Linked DNA regions of Homo sapiens: all the other regions are linked to region 4. The links come from fine-mapping of genetic effects on gene expression. A gene starts in region 4. Each other region holds a variant in brackets. All regions are shown on one strand. Distances are between the middles of the regions.

Region 1 (5,096 bases), 230 kb before region 4:
GTGTGTATGATGGCTGTGGGAGGGGAGTCTCTGGATAATCAGAGAAGGAGGGGAGTCTCTGGGTAATCAGAGGGAGGAGGAGGGGAGTCTCTGGGTAATTGGAGGAGGGGAGTCTCTGGGTAATCGGAGGAGGGGAGTCTGGGTAATCGGAGGAGGGGAGTCTCTGAGATGGAGGGGAGTCTCTGAATAATTGGAGAAGGAGGGGAGTCTCTGGGTAATCGGAGGGAGGAGGGGAGTCTCTGGGTAATCGGAGAAAGAGGGGAGTCTCTGGGTAATCGGAGGGAGGAGGAGGGGAGTCTCTGGGTAATCGGAAGGAGGAGGAGGGGAGTCTCTGGGTAATCGGAAGGAGGAGGAGGGCAGTCTCTGGGTAATCAGAGGGAGGAGGAGGGGAGTCTCTGGGTAATCGGAGGGAGGAGGAGGGGAGTCTCTGGGTAATCGGAAGGAGGAGGAGGGGAGTCTCTGGGTAATTGGAAGGAGGAGGAGGGCAGTCTCTGGGTAATCAGAGGGAGGAGGAGGGGAGTCTCTGGGTAATCGGAAGGAGGAGGAGAGGAGTCTCTGGGTAATCGGAAGGAGGAGGAGGGCAGTCTCTGGGTAATCGGAGGGAGGAGGAGGGGAGTCTCTGGGTAATCGGAGGGAGGAGGAGGGCAGTCTCTGGGTAATCGGAGGGAGGAGGAGGGGAGTCTCTGGGTAATCGGAGGGAGGAGGAGGGGAGTCTCCGGGGGAGTCTCTGGGTACTCGGAGGAGGAGGGCAGTCTCTGGGTAATCGGAGGGAGGAGGAGGGCAGTCTCTGGGTAATCGGAGGGAGGAGGAGGGGAGTCTCTGGGTAATCGGAGGGAGGAGGAGGGGAGTCTCCGGGTAATCAGAGGGACGAGGTTGGAGTGGCCGCTGTGATGGTGGATTACCATTGCACGTTTAGCCCAGAAGAGACAAAGATGGTTAAACAGTGTGTGCGCAGTGGTTAATGGATACACACAGATCTTGTTGCTGTACAAGCTGAGGGGGCCTAGAACCAGCTATGCTTGCAGCAGTGAGCACACCCAGGCCCAGATCCTGGTTCCTAGTGCCCTCCAGTCCACGGGGCCAGGGCTCTGAGGAGAAATGGCTGATTCCAGCACCGGGGCAGGAAATGCCCAGGATCAGCTGATCCTGGCAGTTCCAGAAAGTGAGGAGCTCTGTAAACAAAACCCCACAGTCACGGGATTGCGTCCCAGTGAAAGAGCCTCCCAGTGGCCAAAGAGCAACAAAATAATAAAGTAGTATTAGAATATAACCCAGAGTAGAAAATAAACATCCACGAGCCCATAGTGATATAAGTGATTGAGTAAATAAACAGAGGGAACAAGACCAACCTTCCCTGCAGAAGGTTTTCAGTAAATGAGGTAGATCCCCCCATTCCAGGAGCTGGCGTGAGCTCCCGGCACCGCTGTGCGCTGCGCGTGGTGACCTGACCTCCTTCCTGGGCGTGCAGCACGGAGAGGGCAGTGGGAGGAGGACGCTGCAGCCGAGGTGCCCGCAGACACCCCCAAGCCCAGTGGTCAGGTCAGCATGCACTGGTCATGTTCATGGCGTGGCCGACGGGGAGGCTGCTGCCCCATCCTCCCAACCCCGACGACCCCAGCCCGGCCATGCAGAGGCATAGTCGACCATCTCACTAAGGAACATTCCACAGAATTCCTGACCAGGCCTCCTCCAAACCATCCAGGTCATCAGAGACAAGGAGAGTCTGAGAAACCGTCCCAGCCTCGGGGAGCCTGAAGAGACAGAACGAGTAGATGCCATGTGGCTTCCAGGAAGAGATTGTTGGGGGCGGGGCAGGGGGAAGGACATCAGGGGAGAGCGAAGGAAGTGTAGGCCTCAGCAGCTGTGTGGCAGCACTGGCTTATTTATTTTTTATTTTTTATGTTTATTTTATTTTATTTTTTGAGACAGAGTATCACTGTGTCACCCAGGCTGGAGTGTAGTGGCGTGATCTCGGCTCACTGCAACCTCCGCCTCTCGGGTTCAAGTGATTCTCCTGCCTCAGCCTCCCGAGTAGCTGGGATTACAGGTGCCTGCCACCACATCTGGCTAATTTGTGTATTTTTAGTAGAGATGGGGTTTCACCATGTTGGTCAGGCTGGTCTCGAACTCCTGACCTTGTGATCCGCCTGCCTCAGCCTCCCAAAGTGCTGGGATTACAGGCGTGAGCCACCGCACCCAGCCAGCACCGGCTTATTAATGGTGAGATGTTAATGGGAAAACTGGGCCTGTGAGATATGGGAGCTTTTACTATTTTTACAATAATTCTGTAAATCTAAAACCATTCTAAAATTAAAAATTTATTTTTAAAATGCAATATATTTGTTTTCCTTTTAAAGCACTTCCCTCATTCTTACCCAACGGGACACACCTTCTCAAGTACTTAAGTAATTCTTTTTTTTTTTTTTTTTTGAGACTGAGTCTTGCTGTCACCCAGGCTGGAGTGCAGTGGCGCGATCTCAGCTCACTGCAACCTCTACCTCCCAGATTCAAGTGATTCTCCTACTTCAGCCTCCCGAGTAGCTGGGATTACAGGC[G/A]TCTGCCACCACACCTGGCTAATTTCTTATATTTTTAGTAGAGACAGGAGTTTCATGTCGGCCAGGCTGGTCTCGAACTCCTGACCTTTAATGATCCACCTACCTCAGCCTCCCAAAGTGCTAAGATTACAGGTGTGAACCACTGTGCCCGGCAAGTAATTCTTATGAACAAATTAGCCTTATAAAGTTGTCATAAACATTATGTGATGTGTGGCCAGGTTAGAGTCCTGTGTGACCCGGTCTGAGCTGGCCTCTGGGCAGCATGCCGTGTGGGGGCTGCCACAAGCTGATTCAGGGAGCACCGGCCTGGGGTGACGCACGCCTGTCGGGCGGAGGGCGGCCTGGGGTGACACGGATGGTGGCCTGGGATGACACGCGCCTGTCAGGCGGAGGGCGGCCTGGGGTGACACGCACCTGTCTGGTGGATGGCGGCCTGGGGTGACGCGCGCCTGTCGGGCGGATGGTGGCCTGGGGTGACGTGGATGGCGGCCTGGGGTGACGCAGATGGTGGCCTGGGGTGACGCGGATGGCGGCCTGGGGTGACGCAGATGGTGGCCTGGGGTGACGTGGATGGCGGCCTGGGGTGACGCGGATGGTGGCCTGGGGTGACGCGGATGGTGGCCTGGGGTGACGCGCACCTGTCTGGTGGATGGCGGCCTGGGGTGACGCGCACCTGTCGGGCAGATGGTGGCCTGGGGTGACGTGGATGGCGGCCTGGGGTGATGCAGATGGCGGCCTGGGGTGACGCGGATGGCGGCCTGGGGTGACGCGGATGGCGGCCTGGGGTGATGCGCGCCTGTCGGGCGGATGGTGGCCTGGGGTAACGCGGATGGCGGCCTGGGGTGACACAGATGGTAGCCTGGGGTGACGCGGATGGCGGCCTGGGGTGACGTGCGCCTGCACCGGGAGCAGCTTCCCTTGGCCAGTGCCCATGTTCCTCTTTTCATTTTTATCTTTTCTGGGGAGGGTAGGGGGACGTTTTACTGTCTTTCCACTGAATGTTATGACCCTCCCCACGCCCCTTGGAGGCACAGCTGAGGTGGGGCCTATGTCTGGCTCCAGGGGGCCCTGAAAGGTACTTTTTACACCTCCCACCCCTCAGCACTGAGAGACCTCGGGAGGGGTACCGGTGACAGGGACGCGGGCCCCACCTTGCTGAACCCAGCAGCGAGGGCATCTCTGCCTCTGTCCCTGGAGGCTGACAGCGGTAGTGTGGGAGCTGGGGCCTGGGTGGAGACCGGGTCAGAAACTCAGGTTTCGCCTGGGTGGGCCATGAATGTCCTGCCGAGGGTGAGACCCTCAGGGCTCTGGGTGGAGAGCAGCACCTGCCCAGAAGCAGTAGACCCTTGTCCCGGCTGCACCAGGGGCCAGCGACCTTGTGCCCTCCTCCATCCTGCAAGCCTCGGGCGGTGCTTGGCCTCACCTGCCTCTGTCTACTCAGGACTTTGAGGCCAGGCACTCCTGCAGGCAGAGAGGGGAATTTCTGAGACTGAAGTTGTTACTGGGTATTTTTTAACAGCGCTGTCTTAAAAAATAGATAGCGTGTCTCTGTGGCCCCGTCTATTCTTGCGGCCACACGAACGTGCGTGTGTGTGTGCAGCTTCCCTCACGGCAGCCAAAACCCAGAGGCCGCCCAGCGTGCGAACACGCCAAGGTGTGACTGTCGGCACGGCACTGCCGAGCCGTGGGAGGGACTGGGTGGTGCAGCGGCCAGTGGATCTCAGACCCTGAGCTGAGCACGACTGGAGAGGATGGGTGCATCCGAGCGTCTGCAGAGCACAGAGCGCGTCCGCAGAGCGGGTCCACACCTTGGGTGCAGCGAGCGGATGTGAGCAGTGTGCCTGTGACCAGGGCTGTCTGCACATCCGCCGGCCTAAGCTGCTGCTCACCGAAACCCACTGGGACTCTGGCTGAGGCCGGCCCCAAGGAGCTTTGCCGAGGAGGGAGCACCTTGCCCCTGCCCAGAGCGGTCCCTCGCATCCTCCTTCCCGTGAACCTGCATCTTTGGTTGCAGTTACAGCTCTCACGCTTCCATCTTATGAATCACAGGAGTCCCGTTGGTTTTGGATGAGTTGACACCAAAAAGACACAGGAGCTCTCTAGAGACACTTCCTGGGGGTCCTGCCGCGTTGGAGCAGGGAGGCAGTAGCTCCTGACGCCTTCCCTCCTACGTGGGCTTTGTGATCACTGATGGTCACATGCGGGGCATTCGGTGGCCTCTGTGTAGAGCCAGTGTCTTCCTGATGTGACACTGGGAACCACCAGCAGCCCAAGCACAGGGACCTTCTCCTGGCCACTGGGCGGGCTGCAAATGTGAGGGCGAATGTTGGGTGCAGGGTGGTGGAGGTAGCTGGGCCTTCCCTGCCGCGGAGGAGGCAAATGTGAGCGCGAATGTCCAGCCCAGGGTGGTGGAGGTAGCTGGGCCTTCCCTGCCGCGGAGGCGGCAAATGTGAGGGCGAATGTCCGGCCCAGGGTGGTGGAGGTAGCTGGGCTTTCCCCGCGGCGGAGTCGCCCAGCTCTGCCCGAGGCCCCTTCCTCCCG
Region 2 (5,096 bases), 150 kb after region 4:
GGCGGGTGGGGAAGGTTTGCACCATCGCGGGGTCCGCCCCCTGCACTCAGAGCGGCTGCCCCACGCCCTGGTCCCCTCTCCTCTCCTCTCCTCTCCTCACTTGATGAGACGGGACACGTTGCACACGTGCGCGCCGGACAGGGCCACCCGGGCACTGCGCCTCTCCTAGGGTCGGGGTTCGAGTCCGGGTCGTGGCCAGTTTTGCGCGGGGCCCCGGTGCCTCCTCTGCGCCCGCTCCCTCCTCGGTGCAGCCGTTATCCTTGCCTCGGCCCCGCCCCTCCAGGCAGGCGACCTGTCGGGCCCAGGGACTCACTTCCGAGGGTTTGAGCCGGCTGCCGCCAAGGTCCCCCAGTCGCCGGGAGGCGCTGCGGAAGGGAATCCTGGACACTGAGCAGGGCCGTGGGCCATCAGTGTTCGCGGGAGACACTGGCTTTCCCGCGCCTCCGGCAGCAGAGGCTTCCCTAACTTTTGCGGAGGTGGGGTCAGGTGTGCTCAGACCTGCAGTGGTGTCCGGGGGGGCCCTGTGTGCTGGATGGAGCAGAGCTGAGGTAGAGGGCGGACAGGGTTCCACCCCACCCCAGCCCCATGTCAGCAAGAGGTGGGGCAGGATTCCCACCTGGCCAGGTTGGAGCAAGCCTCATGGAGCCGCGACCCTGTCCTGTCCCTGGCTCCTGTGGAGGGCAGCTGCAGTTGGGGGTGGCCGAGGATGACCTGGACCGGGCCTGGGGCTTTGCTGGCTGGGCTGGGGGAGGTGAAGTGATACCAAGGTCATTCTGTGCCCTATTCTTAATTCCTGAACCAGCTCCTGCAGCTGGGAGTCGGGGGTGTGGCCTCAGCTCCTGCCTAGGCTCTGGGCTTCAGAAGGAGGCTGTCCATCTGCATAAGGTCCAGCTGGGCCAAGTGCCCAGAAGCCTGGGTCTGCCTTCCCACCTCTCCCCTCCTGAGCCCAGGCTCCTTCTCTAGCCAGCTTGGGGTGGAGGCAGGGGGGTCCCTGGGAGGGACAGCCAGCCTGGGTTGCCTGCTGAGTGTGACCCAAGGAGGCTCTTGGCCCAGACATCCACCTCCAGAAGGGGTCACCCAAGGGTTTGTTTTCTGCAAGAGGCTCTGGAGGGGTGAGGCCCAGGCCTGAGGGGCGCCTTGGAGGTAGGGGTGGTGGGAGGTGTGGGTGTGGTCTGGAGCTGGTGGGTGTGGGGGGTGGGCTGCAGGTGGCTGAGTGACCAGAGTGTTTCTGTGACGGGGGGACGGGGCAGAATGACTGAAGGGCAGTGGGTGTGGGGGCCCGGCAGGCAGGCAGGCAGGTCCTGGGAGGGGAAGCCCTCTCTCCTCTCCACCCTCCTCCTGTCCTCCGTGGCCTGGACACCTGCCTTCAGGGAGAAAGAAGAGGGTCCTTTCCCAGGGGGGGTCTCTCTGCTCTGAGAGCAGCCCGCCCTCATGGAGGACCCCCAGGTGGACCTCTCTTTGCTCTGTGAACCCCAGAGAAGCCTCCATTCCTACCGCATGGCAGACACACTCCCCCATCCTCAACCTGGGAAAGAACACACAAGGAACCCCCTTGGGACCCTATTCTGGGCTGGAAAATGCAATTCTCTCTTTTTTATCTTTGTTTTTTGAGATAGAGTCTTGCTCTGTCGCCTGGAGTGCAGTGGCGTGATCTTGGCTCACTGCAACCTTCCATCTCTGGGGTTCAAGCGATTCTCATGCCTCAGCTTCCCGAATTGCTGGGATTACAGGCGCGCATCACCACGCCTGTCTAATTTTTGTATTTTTAGTAGAGACAGGGTTTCACCATGTTGGTCAGGTTGGTCTCGAACTCCTGACCTCGTGATCCGCCTGCCTCGACCTCCCAAAGTGCTGGGATTACAGGCGGCCCCAATTATTTTTTATTAATCAATCACCACCTTCCCGCCAGTCCAGCAAACTGGAGCCCCGCTGGCTTCATACACCAGCCTTGGCCCCCCCCAACCCTGGGCTGGTGCCCAGTGGGGGTCTAAGGGTGGGGGCGGGGCAGGGGAAATAAGAATGAGTGGGGGTTTTGCCAGGAGAGTCTGTCCCGGGCTGATGTCCACGCCTGCTGTGCCCTGAGTCACTGTGAGCTAAGCCCTCTCCTCCTGGCGTGAGGCTATTTCAGGAGTCAGGCCTAGCGCTCCCCTTCCCCAGGGCTCCTTTCCTTTTGGGGGTGCCAGCCCCCTGTTGTCGGGGCTTTTGCCGCCCACTCCATTTCCTACTCGTTGGGAGACCAGGGGATACAACCTGGCCTCCTCCTCCTCCTCCTCCGTCTTCTCAGGGGCGAAGTTCAGGGGTTAAGGTGGTGGGAGGGACGTCCCCCCGG[C/A]GGGACCTCAAGATCCCCGCGTGTGTCTGTCCTGACCCCCCGCTGCCGGAGTCCTGCTGGGCCTGTGGGGAGGGCATGGGGGAGCCCCAGTGGGCAGCCAGTGACCAGAGCCGTGGGCAGTGGTGGGAGCCGGGGTGGGGTGAGGAAAGTTGTGTGTGACTGGGGGGCTGTGCCCGTCCTGGGTGTGGCTGTGGGTGTGGGGGCAGGGGCTGAGCCCTGTAAGTGGTACAGGTGCGGCCAGGGCACTGGGAGGGGTTGGGGGGCTGGGAGTGGGGTCCCATGCCTGGCTCGTGTGCGGTGGTCAGGGTGCAGCTTCCCTCTGCCCCCAGCTTGCCTGGCTGCCCCTTAGCTTTGCTCTCCTGTGCCCTTAACCCCAGCCTGGCACCCCTCTCTCCCACCTTTGCCTCCATGTTCTCCTCAAAGCCCCCCTTCTTCCAAATGCAGACCCTCCAAGGCCCTCACAGTACTCCTGGCTTCCAAGGTCTCTTTGGGTCCAGGCCTGAGCCCCCCTCCACACCCATGGTCAGGCTAGGGCCCCTGGTCACTGACGGCCTGGGGCAGCCTGGGGGCCTACCTGGGAGGGGAAGGGAGGGGCTCGCTCCAGAAGGCTGATTGACGTATTTCTTTACAGCGTTGGTTCGGATTTCCCAGGCAGGCATCTTTGCTGGGGTCTGGGAGGGTGGGGCTGCTGGCAAGAGTCTGTGCTCAGAGCCTCCAGCTTTGGGTGGAGTGGGGAGGGTTCCTGGGGCAGCCAGGGTGGGGAGGTAGGATGTGTCCTGGCCTGGTGGTGGGGGACCCGGTGGGGCCTTCAGAGTTCAGAGCACTGGTGCCAACTCCTAACCCCATGGACATCTGGGGACATGCTACCTGCCTTCAGCAAATAGAGGCCCTCACCCGGTGATGGCAGCTCCGCTGGGGCACAGCCACTGAGCCTTCCTTTGAGCCCTCCCTGCAGAGGTTGGGGAGTGGGAAGCAGGCTGCCTGTGGTGGGGCCGGGGTGTCTCCTGGGAGCCTCATTCCGGGGGAGGCTGGGTGCAGGGCCCGTGAGCCTGAGCGAGGTGTCCTGGTCCAAGGCAGGTGCCGACACAGACACAGGTTAGCAATGGTGAGGGCGTGGGGGGCTCTGCTGCCCTGGGACCCCCACCTTCAGGCCTCTGTGCTGCCTGGTCAGCTCAGCTGCTGCCAGCGACACTCTTCCCCTAATGGAAGTGGAGGTCCCGGGGCGGAGGGGAGAGGACGGGGCCTGCTCTTCCCGCCTGTCAGGGATGGAGGCAGCCGAGCTATTTAGCAAGGTGCCACCACGAAGGGCTGTCCTCCCGCCCTCCTGGCCTCGGCTCCTTCCAGACGCTGCTCCCCAGGGTGGGTGCTGCTCCCCTTTCTCTTCACCCGCAGCACCAGGAGCTTGGTGGAAGCTCCGGCCGTCTCCGCACTGTATGGTTAGGGCCTGGCTGGGGGACCGGGTGGGGGTTGGAGTCCCACCTGCCAGTGCGGGACGCCGGGCAGGTTCTGCCCTCCTTGAGGCCTCATTTTCCCATCTGCACCATGTGGGGCGGTAGAGGGTGAGGTCCCCATATACTGGCCTGGCTCGGGGGTTGAATGGAAATGTGGGAGGCCTCTCAGTTCCCCACCACCTGCGCTGATCCCCGGGGAGACCCCCCAGGTGGGCAGTGTGAGTCTCGGAGCCAGGTGGTCCAGGGCCCCAGCCTGGAGGGGCACGGGGGCTGTCCTGGCTCTGCGCTGCCTGGGCTGTCAACCCTGGAGGTGTGGGGGCCCCTCAGCCTCACTGCCCACTCTCTGTTGTTCCAAAGGAAAGTCCTGGCTGCGCTTGAGGCCTCTGCTCTAAGATCAGCAGTGAGCCTGGTGGAGGGGGTGCAGTGGGGGCCAGCCTTGGCTTCCCCTCCCCTGGGATGAGCTGAGACGATGTCTGGCAGATGGCATGGCCGGCCTGCCTGGCGCTGGCCTCTGGGCAGCACAGTGTCCCCAAGGGTGGCAGAGGGCTCTGCCTTCAGCTCCCAGGCCTCTCTTTGAGGAGTTTAACATCCCAGGCCAGCCTTTGGATCAATTGTTCGGAAACAATCCGTTTCTGAACAAAGGCCCTGACGCTGGCAACCACAGCGTGTCTGAGCCTTGGGGAGTGTGTGGCTCCCTGTGGGTGGGGAGCAGCAGCGGTCGGTCGGGGGACACTGCCTACCCAGCTGTGGGCTCCAGGCAGCTCTGGTGCTGTTGGGGGTAGGTCAGACTTGTCCACCCAGTGACACAGGCCTGGCTCCACGGGGCCTCTGCAGGTTCCAGGTCCCAGCTGGCGGCAGGGCAGGCAGGCCGGGCCTCTGTGTGGAGAGGGCTGTCTCTGGGGGCAGAGATGTGGCATTGGCAGCCCAGGGCTGCAGGGGGCAGGCAGAGAAGTCAGGAGGCCCACGCAGGGGGACGGGAGTGAGCGTGGGGGACCTGGGCTTCCAGCCGCGCTTGTGCGATGTGAGCCGTGGTCCTGGCCTGATGACGGCAGGCCACCTCCTTGCTGTTCCCACGCAGCCCTGCTGCACCCACAGCCCCGCTGGGTCACAGTCTCCTCCTGGATTCCTGTGCCTCCAGCAAACTCCTACCCACCCTGCAGGAGCCAGCATTGGCACCCTGGGCAGGTGCCCACTGACGAGGGCTGTTCTGCTCTCCCTGCTTTGGACACTGGCCTCAGGGTGGGCCTTGGTCACTGGGTGGGGCTGGTCTCCTCATCTCTGGGCCCTGGGGTCCCTTGGAGAGCTCCTAGGGTCAG
Region 3 (5,096 bases), 67 kb before region 4:
GTGACTTCTTTTGCTCAAGGGTTCACAAGGGCAGCAGACTGATCTGCACAAGAGGGACTGAGCCTGGCTGCGGCCGCACCTGATGCCTGTGCACACCTGTCCCTGGTGCAGGCCCTTCCCCCGCAGCCCCGTGACCTTGTCCTGTGAGGCTCACGGTGCCTGCTCCTTCTCAGAGTCCTCATTTCTCCCTTTAACGCACGCCCTGTCAGCGCCTCCGTCTAGCCCGTGTCCTCCAGACCTTCGAGGTCAGGGGCCTCAATTCCTGGCACAGCCCCTCCACTCCAGGCCTCCCAGAAACAGACTAGAGCATCAGGATGTGCGCCGCCTGGGGTCCCACAGAGTGGTGCCCCCTTTTAGTGTCTTCTAGGCCCCTTAGTGACAGACTACAGAAAATACCTCTCAGGTCACAGGTCACCCCTCTTTGGTGAAGAGTCCATAGAATTCTCTGCTGCGCTTTGCAAGCACTTTCTCTTCTGCACGTTTGGAACCTACCCCGGCCTGTCGTGTCTTTCTCCTGGCCTCCTCGCGAGCCGAACCTACTGTCCGGTCCCGGGACCCCCTGCCCAGGGTCAGAGGGGCGCCTACCTAGCTCACGGTCTTGGGCCGGAGGGAATGGAGGAGGGAGCGGGGTCGACCGCTCAGCTGTCCGCCCAGTTTCGGAGGCGGCCACGCGAGGATCAACTGTGCAACGGGTGGGGCCGCGGCTGACCGTGGTGGTCGCGGGGGCTGAGGGCCAGAGGCTGCGGGGGGGGGGCGGCGGGATGAGCTAGGCGTCGGCGGTTGAGTCGGGCGCGGAGTCGGGGGCAGGGGGAGCGGGCGTGGAGGGTGCGCACGAGGTCGAGGCGAGTCCGCGGGGGAGGCGGGCAGAGCCTGAGCTCAGGTCTTTCTGCGTCTGGCGGAACGGGCCTGGGAGGGAGGTTTTGCCAGATACCAGGTGGACTAGGGTGAGCGCCCGAGGGCCGGGACGCACGCACGGGCCGGGTAGGATGGCGCTGGCGTCGATGCCCGCGCGCTTCAGGGCCTGGTCTGGCCGCCCCTCCATCCTTGTCGGTTTCTCGGGTCGCGGACCCCGCGCGGCGCCGGGCGATGCTGGCCTGCCCGTGGCCACCACCTCGCTTCATTCCCGTCTCTTTGGGCCGCCGCATTCGTCCACGTGCCCGTCTCTCCCTGCGCAAAATTCCAAGATGAGCAAATACTGGGCTCACGGTGGAGCGCCGCGGGGGCCCCCCTGAGCCGGGGCGGGTCGGGGGCGGGACCAGGGTCCGGCCGGGGCGTGCCCGAGGGGAGGGACTCCCCGGCTTGCGACCCGGCGTTGTCCGCGGTGCTCAGCGCCCGCCCGGGCGCGCCATGGGGAACCGCAGCACCGCGGACGCGGACGGGCTGCTGGCTGGGCGCGGGCCGGCCGCGGGGGCATCTGCGGGGGCATCTGCGGGGCTGGCTGGGCAGGGCGCGGCGGCGCTGGTGGGGGGCGTGCTGCTCATCGGCGCGGTGCTCGCGGGGAACTCGCTCGTGTGCGTGAGCGTGGCCACCGAGCGCGCCCTGCAGACGCCCACCAACTCCTTCATCGTGAGCCTGGCGGCCGCCGACCTCCTCCTCGCTCTCCTGGTGCTGCCGCTCTTCGTCTACTCCGAGGTGAGCCGCGTCCGGCCGCACGAGCATCCTCACCTGCTCCTCGGTTCCCCGTCCCTGTCCCTACGGAGGACCCGGCGCGACCCGGCCCCTTTCTGGTGCGGAGCTTCCAGCTGGGGCGGCGGCAGGGGCGCTGCGCCTTGTCCCTCGGCGATACACCCACCGCCGCCACCTCGCGACCTTCCACCCGCTGCGCTGTCTGTCCCCCGACCCTCGTTCCTCTTCTCCTTCCCCGTCTGTCTTGGCGTCTGTTATCCAGGAGATGCCCGTCCTTCTATCCAGGGACCCCGGAAACAGGCGACTTTGTCAAGCCCAGTCCCCTCCGTAGCTGGATTTCACCTCCAGGGCAGCCAGCTGGACAGACAGGCAGATGCAGGCTCAGCCCCCTGGCTGCCGTGGGACACACACACACACACACTGCCACAGCCACTGCCCACCACACACACCTAGTGCAGATGCTGGCACACCCCCAGAAGGAGGCTCACAGCTCGCAGGGGAGACCTGGGCTGGACAAAACCCAGGGGAGGGGAGGGTGTGTGGGGACCAGGCCCCTGCTGAGAACCCTGGGGGGAAGCCTGAGGGGGAATTGGGGGATGGAGCCCACACTCCACACCAGGTCTGGCCCTCGAGTGGGTCGGCCTTGGTGCCAGCCCCTCTGCGGCCAGAGAAAAGCAGCTTAGGGCTGAGCTGGAGACGCGGTGTCCCCGACTGTGGGGGAGGGGGACTCGAGGTTTCCCCTTGATGGACACAGTGAATCCAGGCGGCTGGGGCAGAGACCAGCAGCACGGGACACGCGTGACCTGTGCTCCTTTCGAGCCGCAGACGTCACAGTGACGACGTTTAAGCTCCTAATCTCCCCAAATCGGCGGGAAGGATTAGAGGGGCTGCCTGCTCCTTTGCCCTTGGAGAGAGTCACTCCACGTGGAGTCCTACGCTGGGCACTGGGCACGGTCTTCATATTTTTAATTATAATTTATCTTCAAGACAATTATGATGTGGATACTATCATCACCCTTGTCTTACAGATGAAGAAACAGAAATGAATTAACGTGCCCGAGTCTCCCACAGAGAACTTAGCCAACAGAGCAGCCAGCTTCGCTTCTAGGCCCAGCGGGGACCCTGCCTACCCCAGGCTGGGGAGGGGCTCCCTTTGAGCCCGATGATATCAGGCCCGCCCCCAGGGAATTCCCCAGGCCGTTCTCATGTTTGTAACAAAAGGGAGACCAAGGCCAGAAGCCGTGATTCACGCCTGTAATCCCAGGACTTTGGGAGGCAAAGGCAGGAGGATAGTTTGAGACCAGCCTGGGAAACATACCAGGCCTGGTCTCTACAAAAAATTTTAAAATATCAGCCGGGGGTGGTGGCTGCGGCTGTTGTCCCAGCTATTCGGGGGAGCTGAGGCGGCAGAATCGCTTAAACCTGGGAGGCGGAGGTTGCAGTGAGTTGAGATCTCACCACTGCACTCCAGCCTGGGCAACAAGAGCGAAACTCCGTCT[CA/C]AAAAACAAAAAGAAAAACAAATCAGCCGGGGGTGGTGGCGCGCGGCTGTAATCCCAGCTACTCTGGAGACTGAGGTGGGAGGATCGCTTGAGCTCAGGAATTCCAGGCTACAGTGAGCCATGATGGAGCCACAGCACTCCAGCCGCGGTGACACAGCGAGACCCTAACTCAAAACAAAGGGAGATCTGCGTGGGGAAGGGGTGTTTCCCTGCCCGGTCCTCTGGCCTCTGGCTCACAGCCGGGCCCCCTTCTCCGTATTCAGCCCTGGAACTACCCATAAGAGTGGGGGCGGGTCACAAGGGCCCGCGGTGGCTGGGAAACCTCAGGGCCTGTGGTGTCGCCGCGCAGGTCCAGGGTGGCGCGTGGCTGCTGAGCCCCCGCCTGTGCGACGCCCTCATGGCCATGGACGTCATGCTGTGCACCGCCTCCATCTTCAACCTGTGCGCCATCAGCGTGGACAGGTGCGCCGCCCTCCCCGCCCGCGCCCCGGCGCCCCCGCGCCCCGCCCGCCGCCCTCACCGCGGCCTGTGCGCTGTCCGGCGCCCCCTCGGCGCTCCCCGCAGGTTCGTGGCCGTGGCCGTGCCGCTGCGCTACAACCGGCAGGGTGGGAGCCGCCGGCAGCTGCTGCTCATCGGCGCCACGTGGCTGCTGTCCGCGGCGGTGGCGGCGCCCGTACTGTGCGGCCTCAACGACGTGCGCGGCCGCGACCCCGCCGTGTGCCGCCTGGAGGACCGCGACTACGTGGTCTACTCGTCCGTGTGCTCCTTCTTCCTACCCTGCCCGCTCATGCTGCTGCTCTACTGGGCCACGTTCCGCGGCCTGCAGCGCTGGGAGGTGGCACGTCGCGCCAAGCTGCACGGCCGCGCGCCCCGCCGACCCAGCGGCCCTGGCCCGCCTTCCCCCACGCCACCCGCGCCCCGCCTCCCCCAGGACCCCTGCGGCCCCGACTGTGCGCCCCCCGCGCCCGGCCTTCCCCGGGGTCCCTGCGGCCCCGACTGTGCGCCCGCCGCGCCCAGCCTCCCCCAGGACCCCTGCGGCCCCGACTGTGCGCCCCCCGCGCCCGGCCTCCCCCCGGACCCCTGCGGCTCCAACTGTGCTCCCCCCGACGCCGTCAGAGCCGCCGCGCTCCCACCCCAGACTCCACCGCAGACCCGCAGGAGGCGGCGTGCCAAGATCACCGGCCGGGAGCGCAAGGCCATGAGGGTCCTGCCGGTGGTGGTCGGTGGGTTCCTGTCCTGAGGGGCGGGGAGGAGAGGAGGGGGGGGGTACGAGGCCGGCTGGGCGGGGGGCGCTAACGCGGCTCTCGGCGCCCCCAGGGGCCTTCCTGCTGTGCTGGACGCCCTTCTTCGTGGTGCACATCACGCAGGCGCTGTGTCCTGCCTGCTCCGTGCCCCCGCGGCTGGTCAGCGCCGTCACCTGGCTGGGCTACGTCAACAGCGCCCTCAACCCCGTCATCTACACTGTCTTCAACGCCGAGTTCCGCAACGTCTTCCGCAAGGCCCTGCGTGCCTGCTGCTGAGCCGGGCACCCCCGGACGCCCCCCGGCCTGATGGCCAGGCCTCAGGGACCAAGGAGATGGGGAGGGCGCTTTTGTACGTTAATTAAACAAATTCCTTCCCAAACTCAGCTGTGAAGGCTCCTGGGGGCTGATGGGGAGTGGGGAAGAGGGGTTTCTGCCTCAGTGGCCCCAGGCCCCCCAGCCAGTTAACCTCTTTCTCCCCGCCAAGGAAGCCCACAGAGCAGACCCCACCAAGCCGGCCGCCTGCTCAGGGTGAGGGGGGAAGGGGCCCCCGAGAGCCACTCAGTTCCGCAGCGCTGGGGCCCAGCTTCCCCTCTCTGCAGGGGAGAGGAAGCAGCACCCAGCAGGGCAAGGTGTCTCCTGGGGAAGCCCAGTTCCGATGGGAAGAAACAAATGGGGAGAGGCGGGGTGGGGGGCTGTCAGCCGCCAGGCCCTGCCCGGGCCAACTCC
Region 4 (5,083 bases):
CCACAGACCCCCATGGGCCCCCAGGGCCGAGAGGGAGGACAGAGCCCTTCAGAACAGAGGCCTCATCTCACTGCATCCCCCATCACCCCCTAGTTCCCCAATGGTCCTAATTTGTGTTCTGAGATCCCAGTTTACTCCGTGGCCAGGCCCCACCTGTGTTTCCAAGTCGGGCTGGAGACGCAGGATGGGGTAGGCCTTGTGCTCTGAGCAACCCCAGCTCTGCCTCACAGGCAGGCAGGCCCGGTGCAAGAGTGGACTCTGGGTTCCTAAAGCAATAAATGCAAACAAGCCAACAGCTCTGCTGCCTAGCAATTTCCATCTTAGCCACACTTCTCCCTTCAGGGGCTTCGGAGGAGAGGTCAGGGCTAAGGCCGGGGATGAGACTGCAGGAGAGAGAGCAGCGGAGGGCCACATTCGGAGCCTCCGTCCACTCCAGTTTTATCAGCTTTTGCCTTTTGCACGGAGTGCTAAACAAATTCTAGCTCTGTGTTTTTTTCCCATTCCCAGATTTACTATCAGTTCTCCTTAAAAAGTATCTAAGCTGTTACAGTAGCTTTCCCTTCACTTGATTCTATTGTGTGTTTTCTATGTTTGGAATAATTACACCCAAATATCTAGATATTTTCTCTTCACCGCATTTTGTAAATAAAGAGATGTGTATGCCTCCCTGAATTCTCCTAATTATGGCCACCTCCCCCACCCCATCTCCAGTTCTCCTGCCCTGCAAGAGAGCACACCCCACTTGCCAGCTGGTCAGTTCCTGGCTGGCCTCGCCCTCGGGCCCTGGCTGCCGGGCGCCTTCCGCTCGGTGGACTCCTGAGGGCAGGAGGCTGCGGGACTGTCCTGGGCCTCCACTGGGGCTCCCTCGGCTGGGGTGGCTGTGGCTGTGGCACCTGGACAGTCTTTCCTGCCTGTCTTCGTGGAAGCGGTGGGAGCACCCAGTTGTCCTGGGCCGACTTCCTTTGACCTGTCTGTGGCCCCCAGTGGCCACGGTGAGCTGCAGGACAGCCCTGAGGACCCACTTCACACACCAGCGCCTGAGCGCCTCGGGCCACCTCCCTCACCAGCGCCTGCACTCGCAGAAGACCAGCTGGGCACACCTGCCATCTGGAGGACCCAGCCCACAAACCATGCAGACCAGGGAAGGACCCCCTCCCTGAAGCTGGAGACCTGTTGCCTTCATGGTTAATGGATCCTGATACCTCCAGTCTCAGCGAGCACACAAAGGCAGTGGTCACCTGTTCCACAGGGAACGCCATGGCTCCAGGTGACCCGGAGTGGATGGGGCCCGAGAGGCCAGCCTGGACTGTCTCCTGAGGGCAGGCTCCGCACTCAAAATCGTGTTGACAGGCACCCGTTTAGGAGTGGAGAGGGACCCCACCCCCCAGCTGTCCTCTCCAGCGCCTGTTTCCCACTTGGCCACTCCCAGCTCTGCCTCCAGGAAGGGTGAGGGCACGGGTGCACCGAGGGGTTGGCGTGTGTGACCCTGAGCTCTGGGTCAGGGCAAGCTCATGCATGGAGCAGGATCACGGCAGGTTCCTGGAGATCAAACGGCAAAGGCTGTAAACCAGGAAGCCAGGTCTTGCCTGGGCTCAGGGGCAGGCACTGGGCCCGAAGGAGGAGGGCCACTTCCTGCCAGCCCTCCACCGAGCTCACCTATGGCGCCTCCCCAGGAAGTGCTCCGGCCAGCCCAGGGTAAACACGCTAGCCCTGCCCCTCTGGGACCATAGCCCGGGGACCCAGACTCTTGGCCACGCTCATTCCCACCCCTACCCAGGACCGGCAGCCGGAGCCTTGGGTCCCTGCATGGGCCTGGGGCGCCCTGTGCCCCTTCACCTCGTCCTCGTCCAGTTGACTGCTGTGGCAGCCGGTGCTACCCGCTGTGTCCACTGCACCCTGGCCCTGTTCTGAGCGGTCACAGCAGCTGGGGAGAAGGGCCATCCTGGAAGCCGGGCAGATGAGGACGGAACCAGACAGTCCCACTGTGGTGGGCAGAGGTGGGGCCTGGGCCTGACCACGGGGCAGTGCAAGGAGAGAGGCATCCTGAGAGGGCCTGAGGTGTCCCCACCTCCCCTGACACCCCATCCCTCAGTGCCCAGGCTGGGCAGAAAGGGGGGCCTGGAGGAGCAGCTGCACTGTGAACTCAGGGCTCCAGGCCTGGGGTGGGCATGGCTGGGTCCTGCCTGACACCCACCCACTCACCGAAGCCTCTGCCCCTGGGCCTGCGGTGGGCCCGGTAAGGGAAGTGACTCTGCCCCATGCCTGGGGCACCTGAGGGGTGCACCTGGCCCGGCGGAGGCTCTGACCTCCCCAGGGCTGGAGCCCTCCCCAGCAATGCGCCAGCGCTGCCCCCGAAGTCCCATTGGCAGCGTTCCCCCGTCCCCCGGCCTGCTGGGGCGCAGCTAGGCCCTGCCCAAGGAAGAGCTCGAGGCCTCGCCCTGCTCATCCCGCGGAGGCGGCCCTGCGCCCCGCCTGTCCCCAGCGCCCCAGCTCTAGGGGCTAGGCCCGCGGAGGGGCACACCAGGCGGGTGTTGGGGAGGACGCAGAGGGCTGGGGCTGGAGCCCAGGCGGGGCAGGGGGCGGGGCGGAGCTGGGTCCGAGGCCGGCGGGGGCGCCTCCATCCCACGCCCTCCTCCCCCGCGCGCCCGCCCGCTCTCGGGTGACTCCGCAACCTGTCGCTCAGGTTCCTCCTCTCCCGGCCCCGCCCCGGCCCGGCCCCGCCGAGCGTCCCACCCGCCCGCGGGAGACCTGGCGCCCCGGCCGAGGCGCGAACAGACGGACGCACCGGCGAGCGCCGAGGGGACAGGCCGAGCGCGGGGCGCCGGAGGCAGGTGAGCGCTGCGGACACGGGGGAGCGCGCCCGCCCGGGCCTCAGTTTACCCGGTGGCGATGGGACGCGGGGCTTCTGGTTCAGGACACCGGGACGAACGCGGCGTCGCAGGGCGCGGGGCACTTGGAGGGCGGCCGGGCCGAGGGCGCGGGGCAAGGGGCTGGGGGCCTGGTCGAGTCCCCACCTCTCCTGGACGGGTCCTGCTGCAGCCCGGCCTGCCCCCGTCGGTCCTGGGCGGCGGCCGGCGAGCAAGGATATTTTTAAGCCAGCGATGGGTGACTCACCTGCCCCGTCCTGCCCACTCCCAGCTCTGGGGCTTGGTGGGGGCAATCCCTGCGTCCGGAGAGCGCTGGTGGTAGGGAGGCTTCTCCCGGTTCTGTGAGCAGCAGGACCCTCCCGAGGGCCTGACCGTGGAGGTAGCACTGCACACCCACTCCCTGTGGGCCGGAGCCAGGAGGCACTTCCTGGGTGTCGGAGCCCAGAAGGAAACCAGTGGCCGGGAAGCACCAGCTGGGTCAGTCTCCAGGTCAGGGTTGGGGGTGGGAGTTTCAGGGAGGAGGGGAGGCTGGGACAGGGGCTGCAGAGGCCCTGCCAGGAGAGGCAGGAGGGTGGGCTGGCAGGAGCCTGTGGGCACGCGAACTTCAGCCATCCTAGATTCCTGGTCCCTGCGTCCAGCTGCCTGGCGTTGCCCCTTGCTGCGGGGTGTCCCTGGTGGCAGGGGAGGGGGAGGCAGGGCCGGGCATGCCCGGACCTCTGCCCCCACCCACCCCGTGCTCAGTCCTGGGTCGGCTGTGCTGGGAGGCAGGCCCAGCTGGCGGCGGCCCCTCCCCTCGCGGCCCCTCCTCCCCTCGCGGCCCCTCCTGGGTCCCAGCCTCTCCCGGGCCTGCTTAGCACCCAGGCCTTGTTGGCATAGCTCTCCCACCGGGCCTTCTCCGCCTGCCTCGGTCTCCTTTCCCACCCTCAGCTTCCCCAGCTTATCCCTTCCTCCCTCAAGCCATAGCTTCCAAACAAGGACAGGGCCAGGGCCTGAGGGGCCTCCCCATTCCAGGGCCCCACCCAGCGCCTATGAGGGCAGCCTGGAGCCCCTGTGACTCAGCTGACCCCTCCCCAAGGTCACTCAGCATGTGGAGCTGGAACTTGAACTTGGAGCCCGTCCCTCTACCCTCCTGCCCTGCTGGGACCTCCTCCCCTCCACAGCCCGACTGACCGGGCACCCCGCTCTGCCTCACTTCACACCGGGAAAATGACCACAGTACAAAGTGCAGCCTGGGCCTCCAGGGCTTCGTCCCCACCACCAGTGGGCCAAAGAAGCCTCCCCAGGGGGGCGGGGCTCCCACAGGGCAGGAGGCAGCCCCATACCCATGTGCTTCAGACCCAGACACCACACCTGGACCCACCCCACTGCTGCCCGGCCCTGCCTGGGCCTGAGGTCCCCGATGCCCTGCAGGCAACCGAAGGCCAGGAACCTGGCCTTCCCCAGGGGGGTCGCGTGTCACAGCCCTCCATGTTTGCGTGCCCCCAGGCCTGAGTCTGCAAGGGTGCGTTGGTGTCTCGCCCAGGTGTGTGCCTGGACACACGTGCCTGGCGCCCTTGGTGGAGCCCGCCAGGAATCCCATTAAGCAAACACTCAGGCTCGCCACTGAGCCCGTGAACATTCCAGACATTCTCCACGGATAGATGGATGGAGGAAGTGGCCATACCCCCTGGTGCACCCAGCCCCTCATGTCAGCGGCAGTGCCCCCGGGCCTCCCAGACCCTCCCACTAGGCCAGACCTGGTCAAACCAGAAAGTCCCGGGTGCTCCGAGCCACTCCCTTGACCCTCCATACCAACAGCAGTGGCTGGTGACCCCCACCGTGGCAGACCCAAACTCTGAAGCCACAGGGGACAGCCCTGCAGCCCTGGCAGGAGGCAGATGGTGTGGACCTGTGGGGAGCTGATCACAGAGCCACAGAACAGCCAGGTCCCCACAGGGCATAGTCCCCTTGGGACAAGTCAGCCTGGTTCAGGGCCATCAGGCTCTGTCCATCCCCCCGGGAAGCCCCTAGGGTCCAGCCCAAATCAGACCCACCTGTCTGCCCTGGCGGCTGGGCCTTAGTTTCCCCAAAATGCTCGGGGAAGAGGTCAGCACTAGGAGCCCAGAGACAGGCTCTGAGGATTCTGCCCCTGGGGGAGGCCAGAGGCACCTGCCCCATAGCCACCCTACCTCGTTGGAGGGGCAGTGATACTGTGTGTTGGGGCCACTGGACTGGCT
Region 5 (5,096 bases), 21 kb after region 4:
GCTGCGGGGAGCTGTGACCCTGGCGTTTCCCAGGAACGCCCCTGGCTCTGGTTCCCCTGGGGTGCCGGACTGGAGACCCCTGAGGTGGCCTGGGATGGGCCAGCCTTGCTGTACCACAGGCCCCTGCGCCACGCCCACCTCCTGCCTGCCCCGCCTCCACGCAGGGCCCCAAAGCTCTGGGGCTGTCACAGTTTCCATTCCGGGCTGACGCTGCCTGCAGCCTCTCTCCACGGTGACCTCCAGAACAGAAAAGAGGCAGCCAGTCGTGCACCTGGGAAGCTGCTGCCCCCCAGCCACTGCCCAGGTCTCAGAGGAGACCCCCACCAGACTGGGCCTCAGCCCCTCCTGTTCCTCACAGGGGCTACCAGCCAACACCAGCCATGGCCAAGTACGTCAAGATCCTGTATGACTTCACAGCCCGAAATGCCAACGAGCTATCGGTGCTCAAGGATGAGGTCCTAGAGGTGAGGGGCTGGAGGACGGGGTCCAAGAGGGGGAAACAGGGCAGGGCTTCAAGGGAGGGGCTACCAGGGGAGGTGGGGAGCGGTCTAGGGCCAGGCTGGGTGATGCCAGGACGGGGCACAGCTGCTGGCCCCTTTCTCCAGGGTCCCCGCCCTTGGACTCTGATCAGGATCCCCAGCCTGTTGGAGGGGCCTTCCCATCTTGGGGCTCCCCAAAGGCATGCAGAGACCCCTGTGCCAGGCTGGGGGGAGCATCTGCACCACGTGGACTCAGCGGGGGCCTGTCATTCACACCCACCCAGGAGCCCCCACATCTGCACTGGCCGCATCTGCCAGCCGGAATCCAGGCCACCCACTGGGGGACAGAAAGTGGAGCAGGCTAGGGGGGAGTGGGCCACATCCACAGCCTGGCTCGGCGGCTCACGCCTGTAACCGCAGCACTGGGAGGCCAAGGCGGGAGGATCCCTTTAGCCCACGAGTTCGAGACAAGCCTGGGCAACACCTCAAAACCCCATCTCTACAAAAAACATAAAAATTATCTGGATGTGGTGGTGTGTGCCTGTGGTCCCAGCTACTCTGGAGGCTGAGGTGGGGGGATCGCCTGAACCCAGGAGGTCGAGGCTGCAGTGGGCAGTGATTGCACCACTGCATTCCAGCCTGGGCGGCAGAGTGAGACCCTGTCTCCGAGAAAAAAAGGGTCCCCCAGACTCCTTGAGGCAGGGTGGGGGAGGAGCAGCCCAGCGAGGGATGGAGGGGTGGAAACAGGGGTGCGGAGAGAATGGAGCGAAGCGGGGCTCCGGGAGACCCTAGGGCGCTCCCGACCTCTGTAAAGCGGCGCCAGCGGGTGGTCCCAGCCCCGCAGAGCCTGGGTGTGGGGAGGGGCTGACGGCGCGCCCCGCAGGTGCTGGAGGACGGCCGGCAGTGGTGGAAGCTGCGCAGCCGCAGCGGCCAGGCGGGGTACGTGCCCTGCAACATCCTAGGCGAGGCGCGACCGGAGGACGCCGGCGCCCCGTTCGAGCAGGTGAGCCCGCGGGGGTCCCTGGGGTCGCAGCCCCCAGCTTCCTGGAGCAGCCCCGCCTGCGCCTAGCCCCGCCCCAAGGCCAGCCCCGCGGCTGGAGAGACTGGGGCAGGTGCAGGGCTCCCTGGGCAGAAGGAAAGGGCTGGTCCGCAGGCCGGGGCTGTAGGGGGATTGGCGGGGTGGGGAGGTCCCGGGCAGGTGCTGGGAGGCGGGGGCGGGGCGTGGGGAGCCTAATCGCCCCCCGCCCCCGCAGGCCGGTCAGAAGTACTGGGGCCCCGCCAGCCCGACCCACAAGCTACCCCCAAGCTTCCCGGGGAACAAAGACGGTGAGAGCTGCTGCTTCGAGGCGGGGGTCCCGGGCCCAGGGCCACCTGGGGGAGGAAGTGTGGGGGGGGTCCCTGGGCCGGGGGCGGGGGCAGGGGCAAGGCAGCGGCGGGCCTGAGTCGCGCGCCCCCTCAGAGCTCATGCAGCACATGGACGAGGTCAACGACGAGCTCATCCGGAAAATCAGCAACATCAGGGCGCAGCCACAGAGGCACTTCCGCGTGGAGCGCAGCCAGCCCGTGAGCCAGCCGCTCACCTACGAGTCGGGTCCGGACGAGGTCCGCGCCTGGCTGGAAGCCAAGGCCTTCAGCCCGCGGTGAGCGGGGGCGGGGGATGAGCTGGGGCCCGGGCGAGGGGTGGGAGGTGCGGCCGAAGGTGCGCAGCTGTCGGGGCGGGCGCCAGGCAGCCTCGCTCACAGCGCGGCCCTGACGCCCAACTGCCCGCCCCCAGGATCGTGGAGAACCTGGGCATCCTGACCGGGCCGCAGCTCTTCTCCCTCAACAAGGAGGAGCTGAAGAAAGTGTGCGGCGAGGAGGGCGTCCGCGTGTACAGCCAGCTCACCATGCAGAAGGCCTTCCTGGAGGTGAGCCCGCCTGCGCTCCGGCGCCACGCCCCTCCTGCCCCTGCGCCCTCCTCTCCCCCGCCCGTTCCTGGGGTCGCAGAGCAAGGGGGAGGCCGGCACCCAGACACGTGGGACCCCCGGCTGAGGATGCCCCCATTTCTCCTCCCTAGAAGCAGCAAAGTGGGTCGGAGCTGGAAGAACTCATGAACAAGTTTCATTCCATGAATCAGAGGAGGGGGGAGGACAGCTAGGCCCAGCTGCCTTGGGCTGGGGCCTGCGGAGGGGAAGCCCACCCACAATGCATGGAGTATTATTTTTATATGTGTATGTATTTTGTATCAAGGACACGGAGGGGGTGTGGTGCTGGCTAGAGGTCCCTGCCCCTGTCTGGAGGCACAACGCCCATCCTTAGGCCAAACAGTACCCAAGGCCTCAGCCCACACCAAGACTAATCTCAGCCAAACCTGCTGCTTGGTGGTGCCAGCCCCTTGTCCACCTTCTCTTGAGGCCACAGAACTCCCTGGGGCTGGGGCCTCTTTCTCTGGCCTCCCCTGTGCACCTGGGGGGTCCTGGCCCCTGTGATGCTCCCCCATCCCCACCCACTTCTACATCCATCCACACCCCAGGGTGAGCTGGAGCTCCAGGCTGGCCAGGCTGAACCTCGC[A/G]CACACGCAGAGTTCTGCTCCCTGAGGGGGGCCCGGGAGGGGCTCCAGCAGGAGGCCGTGGGTGCCATTCGGGGGAAAGTGGGGGAACGACACACACTTCACCTGCAAGGGCCGACAACGCAGGGGACACCGTGCCGGCTTCAGACACTCCCAGCGCCCACTCTTACAGGCCCAGGACTGGAGCTTTCTCTGGCCAAGTTTCAGGCCAATGATCCCCGCATGGTGTTGGGGGTGCTGGTGTGTCTTGGTGCCTGGACTTGAGTCTCACCCTACAGATGAGAGGTGGCTGAGGCACCAGGGCTAAGCAATTAAACCAGTTAAGTCTCCCAGGAGCCGTGTGTCTCAGTTCTCTGGGAGTCGGAGTGGGTCCTGGAGCCCCCGGAAACTGCACCTTTTCTAAGCAGTGCCGGGCAGAGGGCTGGCCGTCCGCCAGGCTGCTCTGCCCCTGAGCCCAGAGGGGACCCTGCCCACTTCTCTTCCTGTGGCCCTCCCAGGCCCAGCGACCAGAAGGCCCAAAGCGTGTCATCCAAGCCCGGCTTTCGCTGGGCACAACCCTAGTGGGAGCGGTGGGGACAGAGCCAGCTCGGCCAGACGGTCGGCAGGCCCCAGGAGGGCCATGAGTCAGAGGGCAAGGCTGAAACTGGATTTGGAGATCTTAGCCCAGGCTGACGGAGGCTCCCAAGAAGGGGGAGCAGGCCACACTCAGCACCCTGCGTGGGAGGGGCACCTGACCGCCAGATGGGCGGTCCACCTGAGCCGCACCCTTGGAGGGGCCTTTGGTGCCCTCTGCCGGCCGCTCCATGTGCTGCCGTGAGTGGCCGCCAGGGGTGCCCTCGCCCTGGATTGGTGGCAGGGGGCAACCCACAACCATGTGTCCCCATAGCAGCCGTGAACCCAACCCTGGTGCGGAGCATCCGGGGACACAGTCCTGGGGTCTTGGCCTGGGCAGGGGCGACTGTGGGGCTGGGCTGGGGGGGGCGTGTCCCTTGCCTGGTCCACCACCCAGCCAGGCCTGGACACCAGGCCACAGAAGCCCTGACTCACAGCTCAGGCCACACTAGGCCAAGTCTTAACCACAGTGTCTGGTCGGGGCAGCAGGGATTGTCTGGTGCCCTCTGAGCCACGACCCGGGCTTGATGGCCACCACCACTCCTCCAGGCCCCCGGAAGAGGCCCCCCCACCCTGTCAGATGGACCCTGCAGTGAGAGAGACAGGTCCAAGAGGAAAAGGGGAGGGATGGGGGCACCGGCCCTCCTCCCTGCAACCTGCAGCTCCCGCTGCCTGCTGAGCCACCACCTCAGGACGGGGATAGGCACCGGGGCTATATCTGCTCCAAAAGGGGCCTCTGTGGGCCCCAGGATGCCAGTCCTTGGAAGTGAGGGAGGCTGCCCACTCCCCAACCACTCCCAGCAACAGGACCCTTCCTCCACCAGGATGGTCTGGGCTTCATATGCAGCCTCCAGGCTGGGCTGCTCAGCTTCTGAGGGCCCCAGATCTACACCTGCTTCTTCAGCCTTCTCCCTGTCCACCTCCCCCAGCCCCATTTAGAGCCCCCTACCTGCTGTGCCCCACTCTGCCACCTGCACAGCTGAGGAGCCCCAGGAAGCCAGACCCCCAGACTCCAGCCCCCAGATCCCAGCCCTAGGCCCCAAGCAGGCTCCCACCCCAGGAGCCCTGAGTCCGAGGCACCCTGGCCCCAGCTGCCTGCTCGGACCTCTGGGCTTCCAGAAATTACCTCCCGTTTCTTCCAAGGGGCTTCCTGCCACCTCCTGAGACCCCCCTCAAGAGCAGATGGGACCACCGACCTCACCGGCCTGGTGATGGGCACAGGGTCACCTGGCATCGGGTGGGCTGGCTCTCTGTGTCCTCTCTGGCCACCCGCCCCAGGGGTGAGGATTGCCCCCCTTCCTGCCCTGAGGGCATCACTCTTGGGGGCCTGTGGTGTTTTGAGTGCTGCCCGCGGCCTCCGGAGGCCCCAGTGGCAGCCCCGTGAGGCAGGCGTGGATAAGAATGACCCGTAGAGGGGCCAGGTCACCTGCTCGAGGCCCGAGTTTGGGGCAGGGGCT

Evidence for each region.
Region 1: its variant is fine-mapped to the expression of EPS8L2 in whole blood (TOPMed, PIP 0.97).
Region 2: its variant is fine-mapped to the expression of EPS8L2 in whole blood (INTERVAL, PIP 0.90).
Region 3: its variant is fine-mapped to the expression of EPS8L2 in whole blood (TOPMed, PIP above 0.99).
Region 5: its variant is fine-mapped to the expression of EPS8L2 in whole blood (TOPMed, PIP above 0.99).

What each region holds. Positions count from the first base shown.
Region 1 is chr11:468,686-473,781 of GRCh38, forward strand. All of the region lies in intron 2 of PTDSS2 (phosphatidylserine synthase 2), which reads left to right. Among named protein-coding and RNA genes, the nearest start is that of PTDSS2, 21 kb to the left of the region's middle. RefSeq lists enhancers at 2,649-3,172, 3,173-3,695. The variant G/A (reference allele first, on the strand shown) is at 2,556.
Region 2 is chr11:850,537-855,632 of GRCh38, forward strand. All of the region lies in intron 3 of TSPAN4 (tetraspanin 4), which reads left to right. Among named protein-coding and RNA genes, the nearest start is that of TSPAN4, 10 kb to the left of the region's middle. RefSeq lists an enhancer at 3,971-4,484. The variant C/A (reference allele first, on the strand shown) is at 2,330.
Region 3 is chr11:635,958-641,053 of GRCh38, forward strand. It overlaps DRD4 (dopamine receptor D4), which reads left to right and starts at 1,312. Exons shown (of 4, transcript NM_000797.4): 1 at 1,312-1,632; 2 at 3,476-3,588; 3 at 3,691-4,349; 4 at 4,444-4,749. The coding sequence starts at 1,348. The coding sequence ends at 4,646. RefSeq lists enhancers at 1-129, 130-663, 1,199-1,732, 1,733-2,267, 2,268-2,801 and 4 more. The variant CA/C (reference allele first, on the strand shown) is at 3,126.
Region 4 is chr11:703,458-708,540 of GRCh38, forward strand. EPS8L2 (EPS8 signaling adaptor L2) reads left to right here and starts at 2,774. Exons shown (of 21, transcript NM_022772.4): 1 at 2,774-2,831. It overlaps TMEM80 (transmembrane protein 80), which reads left to right. Exons shown (of 5, transcript NM_001042463.3): 5 at 1-672. It also overlaps a transcript of DEAF1 not described here. RefSeq lists enhancers at 687-1,614, 3,470-4,396, 4,397-5,083 and a silencer at 2,591-2,720.
Region 5 is chr11:724,366-729,461 of GRCh38, forward strand. It overlaps EPS8L2 (EPS8 signaling adaptor L2), which reads left to right. Exons shown (of 21, transcript NM_022772.4): 16 at 359-464; 17 at 1,363-1,482; 18 at 1,733-1,805; 19 at 1,939-2,119; 20 at 2,254-2,386; 21 at 2,536-3,362. The coding sequence ends at 2,616. Among named protein-coding and RNA genes, the nearest start is that of TALDO1, 21 kb to the right of the region's middle. RefSeq lists silencers at 1,391-1,690, 2,171-2,360, 3,962-4,051 and an enhancer at 2,822-3,727. The variant A/G (reference allele first, on the strand shown) is at 3,031.